Linked DNA regions of Homo sapiens. The protein of the gene in region 3 purifies or fractionates together with the protein of the main gene of each other region. This does not show direct contact. Each region holds a gene or a part of one and is shown on either strand. Other genes may lie near its edges.

Evidence for each region.
Region 1: the proteins of STK3 (region 3) and BTRC purify together in Homo sapiens (affinity purification with mass spectrometry; 4 studies listed by BioGRID and IntAct, with this or other methods). This does not show direct contact.
Region 2: the proteins of STK3 (region 3) and VAPA purify together in Homo sapiens (affinity purification with mass spectrometry; 5 studies listed by BioGRID and IntAct, with this or other methods). This does not show direct contact.

Annotation. Positions count from the first base shown.
Region 1 is NC_000010.11:101,532,034-101,535,696, reverse strand, and holds part of BTRC (F-box/WD repeat-containing protein 1A), read right to left. Parts: intron 3,403-3,663; coding exon 3,265-3,402; intron 2,746-3,264; coding exon 2,627-2,745; intron 1,037-2,626; coding exon 787-1,036; intron 344-786; coding exon 225-343; intron 1-224. UniProt on the Homo sapiens protein: Substrate recognition component of a SCF (SKP1-CUL1-F-box protein) E3 ubiquitin-protein ligase complex which mediates the ubiquitination and subsequent proteasomal degradation of target proteins. Recognizes and binds to phosphorylated target proteins.
Region 2 is NC_000018.10:9,944,948-9,948,610, reverse strand, and holds part of VAPA (vesicle-associated membrane protein-associated protein A), read right to left. Parts: coding exon of another isoform or gene 3,553-3,663; intron 1-3,552. UniProt on the Homo sapiens protein: Endoplasmic reticulum (ER)-anchored protein that mediates the formation of contact sites between the ER and endosomes via interaction with FFAT motif-containing proteins such as STARD3 or WDR44.
Region 3 is NC_000008.11:98,456,330-98,458,770, forward strand, and holds part of STK3 (serine/threonine-protein kinase 3), read right to left. Parts: intron 965-2,441; coding exon of another isoform or gene 962-964; exon of another isoform or gene 1-961. UniProt on the Homo sapiens protein: Stress-activated, pro-apoptotic kinase which, following caspase-cleavage, enters the nucleus and induces chromatin condensation followed by internucleosomal DNA fragmentation.

The DNA.
Region 1 (3,663 bases), on a different chromosome or scaffold from region 3:
GCACTTTTCAACGGTAGACAGGAGAAATTTAAAAAGAAGGGCAACAAAAGGCTTTGCTGTGCTGCTTCTCTGCCTGGGGCAAACTTCTGACCTGTAAGAAGCTACAGAAAGGAAAAACAGTTGATTATAAACATAACAAAATTGAAGACTTGTATGATCTGTGCATTAATAATGAATGGGAGCATAATATTGATCCCTTATGATACAAGGCACTTGCTGCTCACCTGATAGTGTTGTCAGATGAGCCACTCACTACCAGCCTGTCCCTGTACTGCAAACAGGCAATGCCTCGTTTGTGTCCATTTAAGGTCCTTACAAATTCACAAGTACTTGTGTTCCATACCTGAAAAAGAAAATGGCATTGAGCAGTTGATTTGGTGCTTTTATTGGTAAAATCTATGGCAAATGGAGTCTTAGAGAAGCAGAAAACAGGACTGAACCATTAGAGGGAAGTCTTCTCAAACAAATAAAACAAAGGACAATTTAAATTCATGGTAACAGAGGCTAATTTGCAGTTGGCTGTTACCACATGAGAATTCCTCAGATTGATTTACTCTTCTAGGGTTAGTCTCTTCTCACACTCACCACTATTTATAGGAATAAAATATCTAGGATAAATTGTCACACAACGTCTCACTTATTACACCTTTTCACTTGTAGACTAGTCTCTGAATTAAATATTACATTTTTCTGTAGCAACGTTTAAATATGAAATTGCCCTTGATCAAATTTTCATATGAATTCCCCCATTCTAAGTTGGAAACTTACTGAAAAATGCCTTATTACCTTTATAGTTCTATCCCCAGATGCAGAAACAATGTACTTGTCATCAAAGTCTACAACATTGACAGCAGCTCGGTGTCCGACCAGCACCCTCCGGAGGGTAATGTCAGTTGGGGAGGCCATATCCCATACAGCAATGGAACGATCTTTGGAGCAGGTCACCATCATGCCATTATTGAAACGCAAGTGCAGAACTGCTTCACAATGGTGAATCAACGTGTTTAGCATTTCACCTGTATTTACATCCCACACTCTGGAAGTGATAGATGAGATTTAGATGGTACTCAAGCTACAATCTGTTACCTATATTTGACCATCATGCGCCCTTCCACCCCTTATATTTAGAGAGAGGGCCAGACTGGGAGAGTGGGAGAAGGAAGGGGATGGGATGCTGCCAGTGTGTCCTTAAGACATACTGCTTGAAATATGGGCAAGTTGTGGAGGGCAAGGATGAAGTGGCAGCCACTGTCACCTAATAATTTGGCCCAGACTTGAAGACTGTAAAACTTCTCACATTCAATTTGATACCATTAGTAAGATACATTTTAAATGAGGAATCTGATTAATAACAATAGCATTAGTGCCCATTCCAATGATAGCCCTCAGGAGCCAGAAATGAAATAGGCCAAGATGCTTCTGTCACATACTTAGTAATGTGAATTTGAGTTTGATTACCCTGGATCTCAGGTTTTATCATAAAGGTCAAAGGCCAAGATAACCATGACTCTAATTCTAAGCCCCCATTTCTGTGTTCTGAAGTGGGTAGGGGTTTAAAATAGACCCCCCATTGTAAATATGGGCTTCACAGCAGAGTGTGGGGCCCTTGGATAGCTTGAGAATTTTGTGTGATTATATATTTTGATTATTCTATTTTTGTGTATTTACTTAAGGTTTTATAACATGTTATTTCCTTTTTTCCAGTTTAGCCCCCTTTTATAGAATATCATTTTTTCTTTATCTTATAAATGATGTTAGCACCTGCAGTGTTTTAGATTCTGTGGGGCACTCACTCCACAAGCACCAATAAATGTTAAATGTCAGTAACTACAAGGGCCAAGTTTGCTATGCCTTGCTATGCCTTTAAGTCAAAAGACAAAAAACAGGAACCGTCTTTTCTATTCACAGAGGATAACTTGGAATGGTAAACATTTAACTTCAGAGTATCTAACAATGCACTTAACCGCTTTTTTCCTAGGTCTATTTTTTTTTTAAAGTTACTTTTGATGCATTATGTTTGCTAAATCCTTTAGCTTACGGCAAAATTCCTAACAGAGGTTCCCAGCAGTGCTGCTGGTACCCAGAACTCAAGCTATCCTGGACTCCAGCAGTATAATGGCTGTGTCATCAAATCACTAATGCCTCTGGAAATTGAGGGCCCCTACCTGAGTGAAGCTTGCAATTAAAAACTGCAGGGATGGCAGGGGAGGGGCTGGCAAAGAGAGCACAGCTCACCTGTACATGTTTCAAAGGAGATAATACAGACCTGCACTACAGTTACCACTACCTGAAAGGAAGGCTTCATTGCATTCATATCATTCCCCCGTGAGGTGGTTTTTGTAAGGAATGCAAAGTTTACCATAAGGATAAGAAAAGTTTCTGTAATAGATGATCCTCCAAATTAAAATAGAATGTGTAGTTTCTTCAATGTGCGAAAATGTAAACTTACCTCAAGCATTTCTAAATCAAGTTTTCTAGTTCTAGACTGACAGAAATGATGGGGACCTGGTGGTTTATTCTTCTTTAGTTTCAGAACTGTGCCGATATATACAAAATTACTATCTATGACAAAGAACAGAGCAGAGCTGATATTTCAGAGTTCAAAAAAGCATTTGAAATTTTCTACCTGACCGTGGAATCCGATGATCCTGTTATGATCACTCTCTCATCATACTGGAGACAGAGGACTGAACCTGTATGGCCTGTGAGAATTCGCTTGCATTCCAATGTGTTTTTATCCCAGATCTAGGATGGCAAATAAGATCCTTTTGATCAATGTGATGATGGGGTGCTGTGGAGACTTGTTGGTCCTATTACGTGTCTGATCCCCCAAAATAATCAAAGCCCAGAGTAGTGTGGAATGCATTTTCTATAGGTATAGCTAAGCGCGCGCGCGCGCACACGCGCACACACACACACACACACACACACACACACACACACACATATAGCTTCAGTACTAATGCAAACTTTTATCCTTTTCATTAAGGAACAGGGTAGTCTATAATTATGTGATGGCCAAAAGAGTAACAGCCCATTCAGTGCATTTCAAGAAGAGAATTTAACCCTAGGACTACCCGTTTGTATAGTGGGGAAGCTGATGTCTGTCCTTTAAGGAAATGATTTTGGCTTTGGGACTGGAAACAATCTAAAATCTTCACTTACTTTCTAGAAATAATGCTTAGAGTTTATGCTTTAGACTGCGCTATGAATGTGGTCACTCTTGCTCCCTCTGCTACCTTTCTACAACTGAATAGACCTCACCTTGATTGTGTTGTCTCGAAGGCCGCTTACTATTTTCTGATCATCATACTGTAAACAGTAAACTCCTTTGCTTGTTTCACTTCGGCAGTGAATTCTCTGTAAACTATGTCTTCCACATCTCCAATTAGATTCTATTGTCTGAGAAGAAGGAATGGGAAAGAGGCAGTGTTAGGAAACACCTAGAATCAAACTCTTTTTAGGCTTTAATGACAATCAATGGCTCAATGCTTTACTCTATGGGATATACACAACTTAGGGAAAACTAAAAAATGTCTTTAAAAGGCTACTATCTATATTTATAAAATATTCTTCCTTTTGCAAGGTAATTAAAGGTTGTTTCCTAGAACTTCCCTGCCTATAATTTGTTCAATTAAATAATAAATCTGGTGGAAAGAGACT
Region 2 (3,663 bases), on a different chromosome or scaffold from region 3:
GGTGAGAGTGAGACCCTATCTCCAAAAGGGGGAAAAAAAGATATACATGGGGTCAACACCAAAGAGAAAAAAAACTAAAAGAATCATCAAGCTCGACAACTGATTATTTTTAAATTCTTTACATTGCATAAAATTTTAAATTACGGAGGGAAGGGAAAAAGTCATTTCTCACAATCTTGTCAAATCAACAAAACTATTATTTATATTACTATTATTAAATGACATGTCATTAAATATTCTATTCTATGCCTTGCCAAAATTAAACATTTCACTTTTGTTAAGCATTTGATGGGCAGCTTTCCATTCTTTCAAATTTTAAATAACATGTCCATAGGAAGACATTCCATAAAAAGATAACTAGATTGGAATTAGATTTAGATTTTTCTAATTCTAATAGAATTAGACTTGGAATTAGATTAGAATTTATCTAAGCAAATAGAATTAGATTTTTTTGTTGTTGAATTTCTCTTAAAAATGTTATACTGCTTTTGTAACAAAAAGGAGAAGAAATGATAACCAATATGTGGAGCATAAACAGAATAGAATGCAAAGAATACAGTGAAGCCGAAACACATTTCAAAAGTGTGCCCAATAAGTTATATCACATACTACCTAGGCCCCTTACAAACCAGTGAACATACATAACAGGTGCAAGAAAATCTAATTTATTTACATATACATATGCTACATATGTATATGTTATGCTATATATGTATATGTAATGGGGGGAAGTGTGATGGGAGGGTGGGCTTTGAGTCATGCATGGAGTGACAATCTGAAGAGCCTGATGGAAAAAATTAAGCAGGTGTAACTTTAAGTATATGCTTCCATCCAGGACCTCTATTAGTGAGGTTTGGCTCCAATAAAACAGCTTGTTTCTTGAGAGTTGCTTCAAACTGGTCCAGAAAGAAAAGACTGGTTGTTCTGAGAACCATGAAACAAGCACACCAGAGAGATTCAACATGCTGTGACTCTTAGTAAATTGATGAATGGTAACCTTACATTTAACACTGCAATTCAGAATAAGCTGGAAGGTCAAGGTGTGTATCAACTAAAACAATAAACCAATCTTGTCCAGTTTCCACTATATTATTTAGCCTATCTGCAGTAATCCTCCATCTGAGTTGTCCAGTCATGTTCTGTATAATGATGTTTTGGTCAACAATGATTCATACATATGATAGTGTTCCCATACAATAATAATGGCACTGAAAAATTCCTATTACCTAGTGAGGTCTTATCACAATACATTATTCACGTTTGTGGTGATGCTGGTGTAAATATACATACTGTACTCCAGTCATATAAAAGTATTGCACATATGATTTATGTACAATACAGAATACTTGGTAATAAATGACTATGTTACAGGTTTATGTATTTACTGTTATGCTTTTTATCATTTATTTTAGAGTGTACTCCTTCTACTTACGAAAACAAAAAGGACACTCTAAGTCAGACTCCAGCAGGTCCTTCAGGAGGTATTCCAGAAGACACTGTTAACATAGGAGATGTCAGCTCCATGAGTGTTACTGTCCCTGAAGACATTACAGTGAGACAGGATGTGGAGGTGGAAGGCAGTGATACTGATGATCCCGCCCCTGTGCAGGCCTAGACTAATGTGTGTGCTATGTCTTAGTCTTAAGAAAAGAAGTTTTTTTAAAAATCTTATTTAAAAAATAGAAAAAGGCAGCGAATAAGGACATTAAAAAGATATTTTTATTTATCTATACACTGTGCTTGTGCTTTATGTCAAAAATTTTAATTTTACAGTTTATGAAGTTACGGACAGCTAAGATTAAAGAAAAAAATTTTAATAAATGTAGCCTAAGTGTACAGTGTTTATAAAGTCTACAGTGTACAGTAATGTCCTAGGCCTTCCCATTCACTCACCACTCATTCACTGACCCACCCAAAACAACTTCCAGTTCTGCAAGATCCATTCACAGTAAGTGCCCTATGCAAGTATACAATTTTATCTCTTATGCCATATTTTTGCTGCGCCTTTTCTGTGTATAGTCACGGGTGTCCAATCTTCTGGCTTCCCTGGGCCTCACTGGAAGAAAAATTGTCTTGGGCCACACATAAAATACACTAACACTAACACTAACTAATGAGCTATTAAAAAAAAAAAATCACACAAAAAAAAACTCATAGTGTTTTAAGAAAGTTTACGAATTTGAGGTGGGCCGGATTCAAAGCCATCATGGGCCACGTGTGGGCCGCAGGCTGCAGGTTGAATAAGCTCAGTGTAGATTGTTTCGATACACAAATACTTACCATTGTAGTACAGCCACAGGCTATACAAGTCTGTAGCCTAGGAGCAAAAGGCAATACCATATATAGGTTTTTGTAAGTACACTCTATGATGTTTATACAACACATCACCTAACAACACATTTCTCAATATATATCCCCATCCTTAACAGATGCATGACTGTACTTCTGTATTCTTTTTTAACCATCAGAATTTCAGTTCTAATATCCCAAGTATTTTTACTGGGGGTTAATTAGAAAAAGAGGGAACTAGGAATTGGAAATACAAGAAAAAGTTTGCAAAGAAGCCTTGGGAAGAACAAAGGAGATAAAAGACATAAACGTGGGCCTACATTCTTACAACTAACAGGAGTGATGGATAAAAACGCACATAAAGGGAGTTAAAAGGCTAAAGTCAAGAGTACTGTCATAAACCGAGAGAGGCAAAATTAAGGTCTTAACCTATGAATTAAGAGACAGGATTTAAGTAACAAAGTTACCTGAAGTTTTTTTTTCCCACTCTAAACAGCCAATTTACTGTTTCTTTAGGATCATGACTCCCAGAAGTAAATAATTCCCAATCACAAAAACAAAAAATTATTAAACATTTAGATAATTTTTTAAAGCCTTAGTATGCATATCATCTGCAAAACCAAATCAAAGTATAAACAATCTGTTAAAACTGTGGGGTTGCCACATGTGGTGGCTCACGCCTATAATCCCAGGACTTTGGGAGGCCAAGGCAGGTGGATCACCTGAGGTCGGAGTTTAATGAGACCAGCCTGGCCAACATGGTGAAACCCCATCTCTACCAAAAAAATACAAAAATTAGCCAGGCATGGTGGCACGTGCCTGTACTCCCAGCTACTCAGGAGGCTGAGGTGGGAGAATCCCTTGAACCGGGGAGGCAGAGGTTGCAGTGAGCTGAAATTGTGCCATGCACTCCAGCCTGGGTGACAGAGCGAGACTCCATCTCAAAAAAAAAAAAAAAAAAAAAAAAAAAAGAGTATATTCCCCAAATCTCAAAGAAAAAAATTACAGCAACTTCATAATGTTCACACTTATACTGTCCTGCTCACTATATAGATTTTAGTTAAGTTCAGAAGTTTTTTAGAACAGAATAGTTTGTATGCATGATTTTTAAGTGCTTTGTAGTTTTATTGTAATTTTAGGCATAGTTCAATTCTATCTACTTCATACAACATACTCACAATACCACTTATCTGCTAGGTATCTACATTAACTTAACCATTGACACTAGTAGACTCCTAAGTCTGTTAACTCCCTATAACAAACCTTCTGTTTCTCCTGTTTCAACACACTGAGTCCCCTGGGGTCATCCTTCGTGTGATAACTGGCAGGTGTTGCAACTGTGTTGTTGATGCTGCTCATTGAAGTGACAGTCGG
Region 3 (2,441 bases):
GAATATGTTCCAGGTATATTCACTCTAACTTTTTACATCTTTGCCAGCTACTGAGTGCTACAATAATCATGAACACTTGCAGAGATCACTCAAGAATGTGACAAGACTGAATAAAGGTTAAATTAACCATTCTATCCTCCATTTTACTAAATGCTTAATAAAGAAGATGACTGTGGTAGGGGGCGGGAAGTAAGGCTGAATAGGCCTGGTGGGGCCCCAAAAGCAGGAAGCCATGATCAATTCTGGAGTAGGACAGTTATGTAAGAGTAATCCAGATTTGGTTTTCTTTTCTTCTTCTTCTTCTTCTTATTTTTTTTGACACAAGGTCTCAAACTTCTGGGCTCAAGAGATCCTCCTGCCTTGACCTCCTCAGTAGCTGGGATGTGCCACTGCACCCAGCTCAGGCTTGGTTTTAAAATGATAAAACTTGCAACTTACTTTTTGTTTTAAGAAGATAATTGCCTTTGGTTATTTTATGAGTCAAGCTAGGAAAAATACTCATTACTTATAGTCATCCAAAGTAGCATTTCTCAGCAGATCCTTTTACTCGCCATCCCTGGCCCTATCGTGACTTCTGCTTCCAAAAACCAAATTCACTCTTAGCTGAAAAAGACTCTGAGGATACTGAAAAGAATGAGTCATAGACTCTCTGAAGGAAATTCAAAAAAGGAGTTCCAAAAATATTTTGAGAAATGACAGTGTTATGGAGAAGAGTATGCAGGCTTCCATGATGATGACTTTGAAGGTGAATGCCACTCACTTCGGTGCATAAGAAGTTCTGGTATGTATATTAATAATCAGCCCTGTTATTTTGTAGTCATATGTCATGAAAGAACCTAGCTTTTAATATTATGCCATAAAACATACATTTATATATCATATGTAGTATTATACACTTTCTTCATTGATTTTTAATCCAAGTAGTGATCTTGCATCTGTTACATGCTCAGTGCTGTTCAAATCACTGTGGAGATACAGAATAAGACAAACAGGGAAACTCCAAACTTTGAACTGTACACATCGGTAATGGCCACATTGAAAGGCCAATGTATACCACACAACCACATTTCCCAAGAAAGACATGCCCAACTATGTCTATGTAGGATCCAGTTCCACTTCTGTGTTCTTCAACATCATCTCTATTTCAGCCCATGTTAATCTTTCCCATTTCTAAATTTCTATGTAACACTCATAATTTAAACAACACAATTTAGTATTTGATTCTAAATCATGTACTATTTTATAATTGATTTTTATGCATGAGTTTCATGTCCCTAGATATTCCAAAAAATACTTAGACTTTAGAGACTGTACATACACCAAGAAACTATCCTACTATACTGCAAATAACATGACGTAAACGTAGATAGATAAATATGAATAAGAATATATGACCCAAAGGAGTGGGTTACTCTAAGATCAGAAGAACTAACATATTATATAAAGCAAACAATTATCATTACTTTAATTCTGAATTAAGATATTCCTGTAAATATCTTGTACTACTTTTACTGGGGCAAACTGCCAATAGGTTTATAAATATTGTATTGCAGTAATAGACTGAACTCAGAAAAAGAAGCTACTTAGAAGAAAAATTTTCTTCCTTTAACAGATTTTTATATTATCAATGCGTAAAATTTGTGAAAAACAGGTCTGTGATATTAGAGAAACATTATCTAACATTATTAAGGAATTAGGTGTTCATGTAAGTAAATTAATGAAGTACCTAAATCTTAGTTCTTTAAGTGATAAAACTTTGTCTCAATATCACATACACACACATATACACACACACACACACACACATGTGCACACACACATGTATTTACATATGCTCTTTTTTGGTTCTATGTGACTTTTAGGATTTTTTTCTAATTTTGTGAAAAATGATGTTGGTATTTTGATAGGAAATGCACTGAATCTGTAGACTGCTTTGGGCAGTAAGGTCTTTTTCATAATATTGATTCTTCCAATCCATGAGCATGGGATGTATTTCCATTTGTGTCATGCATGATTTCTTTCAACAGTGTTTTGTAGTTCTCCCTGTAGGGATCTTTTACCTTCTTGGCTAAGTATATTCCTAGGTAATTTATTGCTATTACTATTATTATTATTAATTATTTTACAGCTATTGTAAAAGGGGTTGAGTTCTTGATTTGATTCTCAGCTTGGTCACTGTTGGTATATAATAGTGCTACTGATTTGTACCACTGATTTTGTAACCTAAGACTTTACTGATATGGTTTGGCTGTGTCCCCACCCAAATCTCATCATGAATTGTAATCCTCATAATCCCCATGTGTCTAGGGAGACACCTGGTGGGAGGTGATTGGATCATGGGGGCAGTTTCCCTCCATGCTGTTCTAGTGATAGTGAGTGAGTTCTCACAATATCTGATGGTTTTATAAGGGGCCCTTCCTTCTTCAATCTCACTCTGCTCT